Linked DNA regions of Homo sapiens. The protein of the gene in region 1 interacts with the protein of each later gene in a pairwise test. Each region holds a gene or a part of one and is shown on either strand. Other genes may lie near its edges.

Evidence for each region. Proteins that work in one complex are often made in the same cells at the same time.
Region 2: the proteins of AGPAT4 (region 1) and AQP12B interact in binary tests that used the Homo sapiens proteins (3 or more experiments, as listed by UniProt).

Annotation. Positions count from the first base shown.
Region 1 is NC_000006.12:161,131,028-161,138,068, forward strand, and holds part of AGPAT4 (1-acyl-sn-glycerol-3-phosphate acyltransferase delta), read right to left. Parts: intron 5,608-7,041; coding exon 5,513-5,607; 3' UTR 1-5,512. UniProt on the Homo sapiens protein: Converts 1-acyl-sn-glycerol-3-phosphate (lysophosphatidic acid or LPA) into 1,2-diacyl-sn-glycerol-3-phosphate (phosphatidic acid or PA) by incorporating an acyl moiety at the sn-2 position of the glycerol backbone.
Region 2 is NC_000002.12:240,675,918-240,679,926, forward strand, and holds the end of AQP12B (putative aquaporin-12B), read right to left. Parts: intron 3,868-4,009; coding exon of another isoform or gene 3,569-3,867; exon of another isoform or gene 3,522-3,568; coding exon of another isoform or gene 3,355-3,521; exon of another isoform or gene 3,106-3,354; coding exon of another isoform or gene 3,006-3,105; exon of another isoform or gene 2,894-3,005; intron 2,462-2,893; coding exon of another isoform or gene 2,424-2,461; intron 1,803-2,423; coding exon of another isoform or gene 1,682-1,802; intron 828-1,681; coding exon 628-827; coding exon of another isoform or gene 609-627; 3' UTR 501-608; downstream 1-500. UniProt on the Homo sapiens protein: Putative aquaporin. Could form homotetrameric transmembrane channels, with each monomer independently mediating water transport across the plasma membrane along its osmotic gradient.

The DNA.
Region 1 (7,041 bases):
TATGCAGCAATCTTAACTTTGTGTACATACCACTCACCTCCCTTAAAATTCAGCAGAACCAGAGGTGCCAGAAATGTCAAAAAATATCTAGTCATTCCAATATGTAAAACAAGACTGCCTTGTTTTAAAAAAACAAATTAAATGTAAAAATTGTATGACTCTTACCCAGTGAAAAGCTTTACTAACACAGCCCTGGGTGCTATTTCCAGATACTGAAAAGATCTAAGTAGGTGCTTAAGAACTGCTTTTTAACCCATTCACAACCTTCATATTAAACTAGGATGAGGCTGCAGGAGCTGAGGAAGGAAGGCCTGGGTGGGAACCTGGATGTCCTTTCCTGGAGAACAGCTTTGCTATTTCACTGGTAACTCCGAAACTTCAAAATATTGACTGTACAAATTACTCAAGTTTATTTTGGCCTAATTATTCTTAAGAAAGGTGGTTCTTTTTTAGAAAAGGGAAGCAGAAGCTAATTGAAATTCCATTACTCAGGCCTCTAGTAAGTGCCCCCTTCATGTAGTCACTATTCACTGAGGGCCATGAGGGTGAGGCCCTGCTGGGGGGGCAGGGCAGGGCTGTGAGCTCAGGAGCCCATCCCTGTGCTCAGAGAGATGGGACTCCAATGAGGAGACACACTATGTAGGTGCAATTTCTGATTTCTTAGTTTTTGACCAAAATAGCAGTAATTTCAAACAGTTGAATGTCGTGATCGATACTATGTCAGTTGGTGATGAATGCTGTGAATGGTATTGAATGTCCTGGACCAAGAGGAACAGCAACATGTCCTTAGTCCTCAGCCTAAGAAGTCCATCGAGTCCTTCTCTCAAATTGTACGTCTGTTGTTTTCAAAAGCCATTGTGACAGGTCAAAACCCTGGAGTATTTGGTTTGTGTTTAAATGTACTTGACACTCTGGAAACACTCAACCTAAGCCCTGGATGCAGGAGGCAGGGATGCTGAGGATGTGAATTAGAGTGCTGGGATGTGCTAATGCCTAGGGAGGCATCAGGCACTGTGCTGGCTTGGGGGATCCTGTGATGACTGGAACCTGGGCCTTCATTACGGGCTCCGGTTTTGGAGTGCAGAGGGATTGGCATTTGTAAAGACTGCTTGCTTACCCTTTGTCTGGCATGCACATTCAGGATGTGACTTCAGCTTCATTCATCCTGGCCAAACAAAAAAAGTTCAAAAAATTGTTTTCAATTAAATTTCTGAAGATCTTTGTAGGGAAGCACCCTTCTGAGATGAAACCAATTTCTTGTCCACACAGCCACCATATCCTTATATAGATGGGGAAAAATCCAGAAAAGGGGGATTTTCAGCAGCTGGCTTGAAGCCCCTGAATGGTCCCTTGGCAGAGGCAAAGAATGAGCCCAGAGCCTGAGATTCAAGATGCTGGTCTCTTCTGAACACACCGTGGAGCAATGTGGTGCACCTGCAGATGCCGCACTCAGCAGCCTGGAATGCCAGCTCTCATGCCCTCACCTAGAAACGCCTTCTCGGCTGAATGGCTGTTGGCTCTCAGCAGCACCTGTCAGCATAGCTCGGCCGCTTCTGCCCCGTGCCAAGGCGTGACTAGGACCAGAAGAATCAGAAAGCATGGTGGAGTCCGAAAGCATTGGCAAAGCCAGCACATCTGTGAGCATGTTACACATGGGCTTGCCTAAGTATTTCCTTCTCTGTGAACATCACTTAGGAGCTACGTCAGTTAAGGCATCGTGAGACACAGGTGTGGTGGAGGCATTATGAGGGGACTACTCCACAGGACCTTGGAGAGTTGCATTTTGGGGGGCTCTCCTAGAAGCTCTGGGGGAAGGAAGCAGTGGCCTCCTGGTCAGCTACAGACACAGGCGGGTTAGGGCCCGTCTTGCTTTCATGTTCTTTTAAACACAAATGGCAGCTCACAAATATTCCTCTAAATATTCCTCCATACAGCCTAGGGCCCCTCAAGAGACGTGCAAACCAAAGTATTTGTTTTTCTCACTTTATCTTTAACCTAGTATGTGGCAAGTCTGGACCACTGCTTTAGAGAAAGCTGGATTAAATCTCTTGAGCAGAAGTAGAGACCCTAGAGAATCTTCACTGGATACCTTGCTTCACACTTTGGTCAATATTTATGAATAAGTTCTAAAGCCTATGCGAAGCCCATTCTGTTTTGCTTGGGGACCAGCCAGACCACTCCTCCACTCCAGTGGGGCCTTTTTTGTGTCTTTCACATCACTGTTACAAGTTGTGGCTGGACAATTAATGACATTTAAATCACTGTCCCACATATGGATATATTAGAAAAACCCTAATGTTTTAAAATTTTTTTAATCATCAGCTGCTTTTACAAAGCTTTGCATGCATTTGTTTAGAGGATATTGCAGTCGAGATATTCCAGTACTACTGTGTGATCATATGAAAAAAGTTGGTTTTCTCTCTGTCAAAGTCAATAGGGTGGTAGACTAACTCACAGAGTGCCTTACTTCTTCCTCCCGATTAATCGTGTTCACTATATGGTGGCAGAATCAGTCCAGTCCCCCAGACCTCAAGCTGCATCTTCCAAATGGTTGGTGTCTTTTTAAGAGTCCCCGTGGGCTGGCTTTCCTGGAAGAAGTCCATTAAATTCCCTGCTTCTATAAGCTGCAGGAGTCGCCTAGGATATGGCCCGTCACGTCTGGGGATGACCCTGCACTGCTCTCCAGATTTCACTCAAGGTTCGTATTTTTCTCTGCCACCTTGAACTACAGAACAGGCTCTCAGTAGCGTGATAAGCTTTAAGCTAGAATGAGATGGAAAGGTGGGAAAGACAGACAGGAAGTGTAGCTCTTAGTCTATGGGGCTCTCCTTAGGGGACAAAAAGATGGCTTAGGCTCCGTGGGTTTTCAACTCGTAGAAAAAATAACCCTGGGAACCAAAGCAGTTGTTGTGTGCTGAGGAGATGGTGACCTCCGTGTGACCTGAACATGGGTGAAGGTATTTGAGGAGGCGTGATGAGCTTCCGTCCAGGAGTACCCGTGGTTGTCTGTGTCATTAAGGGCGCAGGGTGTAAGGAAACCAGGTTCCCAGGCTGCATAACAAAATTGTTCTTCGTGGACAGGTCAAATGACTGATGAGAAAGAGGTCCAGATCTCTCCCCAGCACGCCACATTCTCTTTCGGCTCTAAGGCAATTCAAAACTTGGCGCTCACTTAGTTATTTCCTAAGAGATTTCTGCCTGCATTCCTCCAGCCTGGAACCCAAGGCCCTAGCAGGCAGGCTGTTTGCTTGCTTGTGTGTTGTGTGATACCAGAGCCAATTCAGAAGAAAATTGAATGTCTGTGGGCCCCCGGATCTATGTTTTTAGAACTTACTTAGATTACTTCTGTGTTGAATGGAAGAATGAAAATGAGAAAAATAACACATTTTTAGTACGACAAGAAAATTTCTGAGCATTTTTGAGAGTAGCAACATAGAGGCAGCTTTCTAGTCTTTCATCCTTGGCTTAGTGCTTTAGGATTCTTAAAGTGTGCTCTTTTACCCTTGACACACCCCAAGAGGTAGATATCGTCACCCCCATTTTGCAGATGGGGAAATGAGTCAGCAAGGAAAAGTGTCTCACCCAAATCCTACAGCCGATGAGCTGCAGAGTTCAGGTGAATGGCGTAACTCAGCATCACGGACCCCTCCGAGAGACTGGCCCGATAATCCAGGCGCAGGTCCACTAGGGCGTGCTCACAGACACGCAAGGCTACACACCATGCACACCTCCACTTCTCCAAGGACCCCTCTTGCCTAAGGTCACGTCCTGGGCTTTTGCCCACAGATCTCTGCACACGGTGCTTCATGCCCTGTGCAGGGTGGGCAGATGTGCTGGGCGCTCCCATCAAGCCTGCCTGCAGGGCCGCCAGCGAGTTAACTCAGGCCCTAGGCTCTGCAGTACGCTCTTCCCACAAGTCAGCCAGGATTTTTTCCCTTTTTCACTTCTGTGGATTCAAATAATTCATTTGTATCAACAAACAAACAATGCATTATTGTCCTGTAAGCAGAGGGAGCTTCTCTAGAGCTGTCTTGTAACTCCTTGGCTTACCTAGTTTGGTTGATAAACAATGACTAAATGAGCAAATAGCCAAAAACATAACTGCATAGAATAGGCCTTATAATGTGTGGCCAGTTTTTGTATAGAGCTGTTCATTCCTTCTCATGTTACCACAGCAACACAGGCAGCTTTTCTCAGCAACTTTCAGCTGCGCACCTGGAGAAAGACATATCCTTCCTAACTCATGCTCCAAATACCTATCGGTCCAAGTGCCATTGGTGTCTTGGCCTAAGATGATTTAATAGCTAGCATTTGTTCTGCAAAAATAGCACTGCTTTTAGTTTCTTCTTCTTTTGCATTTTTGGCACCTGTTGGCTGACAGCAGTCTGCAAAGGCCGCTGGAGATGCTACAGGGCAGAACTATTCCGTGGAGTAAAATGGGAGCAGACAGGAGCCCGGAAGGAAGGCAGAAGCCTGGGGGTTTTTTGTACATGGGATGTCGGCTCTGATTTGACCCTCATCAGAGCAGGACCTGGCTCCTTTAGGGCTGCAGACAAGCTCTACATGCTGGGAAGGGGCGAGGCATTTTATAAAGTGAAACTGCATTTTATCAGGGGTGACTTTGGCTGTCACTGCTGAGAGGAACAGTCGATGCAAGCTCATCTCACAAATCACTGCAGAATGCCCAGGCTGTACGTTCATGATGTTTGTGTTCAATTTCAAGATCCATTTCTTCAGGGAGTTGGGTCCATCTTCAAGACTTACGCCAGGAGACTGCACTGCAGAGACCGAGCGAAACTCTCCCTTGCTGTGTGCCAGGGACACGCTTCGTTGGTCTCCACGCACGTGCTTGCCATCTCTGCTCTCACAAATGCTCACGGGCTCCTGGACCTGTGTCTCCTGCCAGGAGCTGTGCTGGCCTGCCCACCCCTCTCAGCTGCCCACACCTCCGCGGCAGCTGCCTCCCGTGAGTAGGATCTGAAACACCAAAGCCACGGGCAAGGGCAGGATGGAGGGGCAGCGGTCCATGTCAACATACACCACAGATGACCCAGAAAAGCACTTTAATTTTTTTTTCTTGGAGGCATAATTTAGTCATCTCACCTAAAGCACTTTTCACTTTATCTCTGGCAACCAAGGGTTACAGAAAACTCAGCACCAAAGGATGAAAGGGGAACTTGTCCCCTTCGGTCCCCAGCCCTGCCCTCCCCTGCAGCCTAAAATACCCTTTCTATGATCACAGAACAAAGTTCACACTCACCACACAGCCATTCTCACACACACTCGCACAAAAAGAAAACCAAAGCCCACTAAAGCACATGGGGAAAAAAAGATTACAAAACATCTTCCTCCCCATCCGGCCTTGAGACCAGACTCCCTGGCTGGAGAGGTCGTGACTTCCGCCGTGCCCAGCAGGGGCTCACCCAGCCTTTGTCACCGTGTCCCACTAAGGAGGATATGCAGAGGCCACCAGTTCCCCAAGGTTCCCTTCGGATGGTGACACCTCCCTGAGTCAGTCATTCAGTTTCTGCTTGCTGTCAGAGTTGCCGTAGGCAGAGCCCTTGTCAATTTCCGTCACACCAATCATCCATCGAACTCCCACGGAGGCTGCAGAGACAAGGAGAGCAGAGTTAGGAGTAGCCCAAACAGACTACAGGGCCGTTTTCCCACAGAGCAAGTGAGAAGGCCCGTGGCCGCAAATCACAAGCGCCAGCTCAGAGCTGGCTGGCGGGTTTGAGGTGCCATCATCCTGCCGGCTTTACAATCATCCTTGAGTGTGGACATCCATGTGACATTAAGACAAAGCAAGGCTGCTCTGGTGGGGGTTTTCCTCCTTGGACCCTGAAGGTGAATGATTTGGCAAGCCATGCACAGCCGTTCGCAGGGACTCAGAGAAATCCCTGGCTTCCTCTGCTGACCCCCAGGTAAAGAGGATTCTTTTGTGAATAAGGGACAGGAAGTTAACAGGGCATGTTCAGCGAAGTTTTATAAAGAACAGACCAGGAGCCTGGAAGACGCAAGAGCTCGAGTATCGAGTGCCCAACACGTTTCAGCACTGCTTTTGGTGCAAGCGTTAGAGCAGTGAGAAAATCCCCGCCCTCTCCTCTGACGGCAGGATTTGCCTACACCAGAGAATGGGCAGGACCCTCGTGGGAGCCCAGTTTAATATAGGAAGCTGGAAAGCAGGGCCTAATGCTCAGAAGTTGCAATTTCAACTACACCCTCTGGAGCGGGCAGATGTGGTGAGGTCCTTGGGTGCAGGGCCCAAGACTTAATCATTTGATGTGCTCAGCACTGGGCATGGGGCTTGGAAAACAGTCCATTTATAATACATGCTTAAGAATGGATAGACGAATAAGTGAATGAAATCCCCCAAATCATGATGCACAGGATTATCTAGCATTAGCATCGCGGTCGATAAACTAACTGGGACATGGATGCAAGAGCCTGGGATGGGCGAATCCAGCCCAGCCAGCAGGAGGCACGCATCTCCCATGGGTCATTTACAAACTGGAGGGCTCCTGCATGGAGCGTAACAGTAACAGTGAGAGTGGAGTTATTGTAGAGCAGAAAGAAGTGAGTAAAACGTGGACCGTGTGGCCTTGGAAGAGGAGTAAAGAACACAAACACAAAGTCCTTCAGGGAAGAATGCAGTCAGGCGCAGGCTCAGAGTAATGGGGCACGGCAGTCAGCTCCTCAGATGCTCCTGGAGACGCCGTGTCCACACTGCACCCCTCAGATGCTCCTGAAGACTCCCTGTGTCCACACTGCACCCCTCAGATGCTCCTGAAGACTCCCTGTGTCCACACTGCACCCCTCAGATGCTCCTGAAGACTCCCTGTGTCCATACTGCACCCCTCAGATGCTCCTGGAGACGCCCTGTGTCCACACTGCACCCTGGGCAGTGCTCAGGCTTCTTTTTTTGGTACTCGCTACACAGCTGGGTGGCCCTGTCTGCAGCCTTCATCCTGAAGGGGCCCCTCTCCAAGACGGCGTGGGTGTGTGTGTGCCTTGCTGTTGCCTGCTATTGAAGCAGAAGGG
Region 2 (4,009 bases), on another chromosome or scaffold:
CCGTTATCTCCTTTGGGTGGAAGTTTCCAGACCGGCTCTGTTCTTTGGGAAGGAAATGGCTGGAGGTGCCATGCCTCCAGGTCCCAGTTCTGCCACCAAGGTCTCAGTGATTGACCTGGCTTTGGGCGGCGAGCGGACCATGGTCCTGACGGTCGCGAACTCAGGGCCCGTGGGACTGGGTGCCCTGTGCCTAGTTCACAAGCCTACAGCCTCAGGCTCCAGCACCATCCTCAGCATCCCATCGGGTCTCAGGCCTCCGTGGCTGTGGGCTCCCTCCCGGGCATGTCCAGGGCTGCAGCATCATCTTGGCAGACTTGGGACCTGGCGGACTCCCTGGGCTCTTCCCTGTCATCCTGCCCTTTCCTCTCCTGCTTCTTCTGTAACAAGAGGCAGGAAGGAGCCCGCGGGAGATGGGGAGACTCGGACCAGCCTCACCGTGTTGCCGCACACCCTTGCCTGCCCCTCCAGAAGCCTCTCTCGGGCCCAGGGGGACACACAGGTCTTAGAAATGGTTTATTGACAAATGGCTTCTGGGGAGGGGGCCAGGATTCCCTCTTAGCTACAGAAGGTTCCAGGGTCCAGCTACAAGCAGGGCCCTCGCACGGGGCTCACACAGAGCAAGGCCACTCAGCTGGAATGTGGCCCCTCAACACCACTGCGCCCAGGCTCCCGGACACTGGACCCCTTTGCAGGGGTCTGGGTGTCCCCTGAGGCCGGGGCCGGCTTCCCTCGGGGTGCTCGGTACTTGTTCTTCTGGCCGTAGAACAGGTTCCTCTGGAAAAGGTGGGGAAGGCGGCCCTGGTGCAGCAGCACAGCCAGGACCATCCCTGCAAGAGAAGGCAGGTCCCAGGTGGGCCGCGGGGCTCCTGGGCCCAAACACAGACAGGACACCCACTCCCAGGCCTGTGCCAGGACAGGCGAGCCAGGCAGCCTGGCCAGGAGCCCCAAGAACCCTGAGGCCCAGCTCCTGCCTGGTCCTGGTCTTCCCGCCCTGGTCATGCCCCTCTCTCTGGGTATGCCAGCCATGGGGACGGGGGCAAGCCGGTGGGGTTCCTTGTACTTCTGGACCACCCTCTGGGATGAGTGACTGGAATTCCCCTCCCCCCACATTGTCCTGAGCCACTCCCAGAGCTTCTGTGGCCATTTTCCTCCGGGACCTGATGTGGCGTCCCAGGGTGGCTGCTTGCAGGGCTGTGGCCTGGCGTAGAGGTGGGGGATGTGAGTGGACAAGAAAGATGTGGATGCCCCTGGGTGGGAGGCTGGGCCTGGCTAAATCCTCATGCGAACGTTCTCCCAGAACTCCAGGAGCAGAGACTCCTAAATCCCCGCCTGCCTTCCAGGTCATTGGGAAGGGCAGGTGTTCCGGGCAGAAGGGGAGAGTAGATCCTCTTCAAGTTTGATCTCACTCCTCTAAGGATTTAACCCACAGTGTGTGAGCTCCACTAGGGCTGGCCTGAGGGGGCCCTGCCTGTCACCACCTGCAGCTGCTGTGGCTCCTGACAGTGGCCCCTGTGCCTACAGCTTGCCTACAGTTGCCCCTCACTCGGCCCTCCAGGCCCACACTGGTCCTAGCTCTGTTCCCAGGAGGGCAGGCCCAGGGAGGCGGGATGACCTGCTCAGGGGTGCTGCCAGCAGGTGCCGGTGGCCGCTCACACCCAGGGAGATAGCCCCATGTCCACACCTGGCTACGGGGCTCCTGGCTGCAGCCTTGGAGCTCCCCAGGGCTCATGCTGATACTGAACTTGTGGATAAAGGGGTTAATGGAAGGACACAAGCCTGTTTTTCGGTTTCCTGAAGCTGCCCTAAGATGACAGGAAAGGGATGCTGTCAGAGGTGTCAAGCATCCAGATGGATGAGACGGGAAGAGACGCAGGAGCACAGCGTGGGGCTGACAAGCATGTGGACGACCAAACACTGCTGACATGGAGGGGCCGGATCGCCCCTCCGCAGGGACGAAAGCTGGGAAACAACCCAGTTCTTCCGCAGATGCCCCATGCTTTCAGAAGCTGGCGCCCGGGTCCCTGTGGGATGGGGTGGCCCTGGGACTCGCCTAGGAGGAGGGACGGCAATTCCGCATGGGAAGCTCCAGGGCCCCAAACCCCAAAATACAGAAGCAGCCAGTGCCCCCCTCCCTGGCCCTGGCAGGAGACAGGTTCCTCTCTAGAGGGGGCATGTGGACTCGAGTATCAGGCCCGCCCAAGCCTGGAGTCCCGCCTGAAACACGGATCCCAGCCTCCTCCTACTTGGCTCCTAGAAGCCGCAAATGCCCTTTGGGCTTCTCCACAGAGGCAGTTCTACAGTGAGAGGTTGCAGCCGGGTGAAGAGTATTTCCCCAGCGACACGCCCTTCCCAGAACACAGGATGTGCCCTTGTTAGAATACGGCCTGGGACATAAAATCAGTGAAATCACGGTGACGTCATACTTGAGTAGAGTGAACCTCCAATTCGATGACTGGTGTCCCTATATGAAGAGAACAGACAATGACACAGAGGAGGCGGCCAGGGGAACCGGCAGACATGGGAGTGCTGCGTCTCCAAGCCCGGGGACACCGGGGGTGCCAGAGGCCCCCGGAGCCCGGAAGAGGCAGGAGGCTCCTCCCCAGCAGCCTCCGAGGAGAGCTGACCCTGTCAGTGCTGCCAGCTCAGACTCCAGCCTCCAGAGCTGGCTGAGCATACAACCCTGTCACGTGAAGCCTCTTCGTTTGCGTCCTTTGCCTTGTAGCCCGTGAAGCCACCACAGGCCATGGTTGGGGCCTGAGAAACTCAGGACGAAACTGAGCTCCCACCCGGAACCCTGCCCAGGCCTCACCGACACTCAAGTGCAGGTCAGAACCAGGACACTATTTCAGACACAGGAGGTCTGAAGTGTACCTGCCAGGTCCCCGTTCTCAGGAAGCTACTGTGAGACGGGCACCAGCAAAAAGAAGGAATCAACCGAAACAGGAGGCGATGAGGAAAGCAGGAAACAGAAATACAACCAGGATCAGTGAAGGGCAGCACCATACCGGAGATGGACGCCTGCGGGTAACCCGGAGCTGCGGATCCTCGGGGGAGACGCTGCCCACACAGAGCACTGGTGCTGAACTAAGGAAAGCACCCAGAAGCCTGGGCAGGAGAGAGTCCAGGACCTCGTCACCCGCAGGAAGCAAGGCCTGTGCAGGAGCGGAGAGGCCTCCGGGGCCACCACAGCTCACCCGGGCCGTGTTTCCATGCCAGGGAACTAGAGGGGGCTCTGGAGCTGATCAGGAGGAAGAGGCCGACCCACCCGGAGTGAAGGATCCGCAGGAGGAGCGTGGGGAGGCAAGGAAAGAACATCCGCCCCCCACATCCCAGGAGACAGCCCAGGGTTGATACCTGAACTGAAGAGTCTCGGAGAAGCCCTGCAGGCCCAGTGTGTGGGGACAGAGAGGCCAACACGGAGCTGTTCCTAGCAGAGGGCAGTGCTGCCTCGGCAACGGGGGCAGGAGGGGGTTCCTGATGCACTTCGTATGCTTCCTAGGACCCTGCACATGCCTGAGAGACTGTGACCACATCAGAACCATGGCGACAAATCACGATGACGTCAGTGTCACCATCGCAGGGCCAGGTGCCTGAGAGACCCCCAGCTCCTGTCTTTCCCCCCAAGGGGAGGCTGAGGCATTGCCCCTGAGACCTCCCCAGTGTAGAGCCAGCAGAAGCTGAAAAAAGCTTCCAGAATTCCATAGGAACCCAGCTGCCCTTCTGGTACCTCAGTGAGGTGGAGCCGAGTGTCTGAGAGCAGGTGCAGGAGAAGGTGTGGGCTCCACCTGGGCCTCTGAAGCCAGGGGCCAGAATCCCCAGATCTAGGTCCAAGAGGGGGCTCCATGACCTCCCCATGCTGCTCCTCTGCTTGGATCCAGGATATAAGAAAGGAGGGGCACACACTGTGGGGGAACTCTGGGGTCCCCTGTGTGCATCAGCGAGTCCCGGGTCTGCCCCACCAGGATGCAAAGGGCCTGGCTGCTCCAGCCCCATGCTCACAGCCCTATAA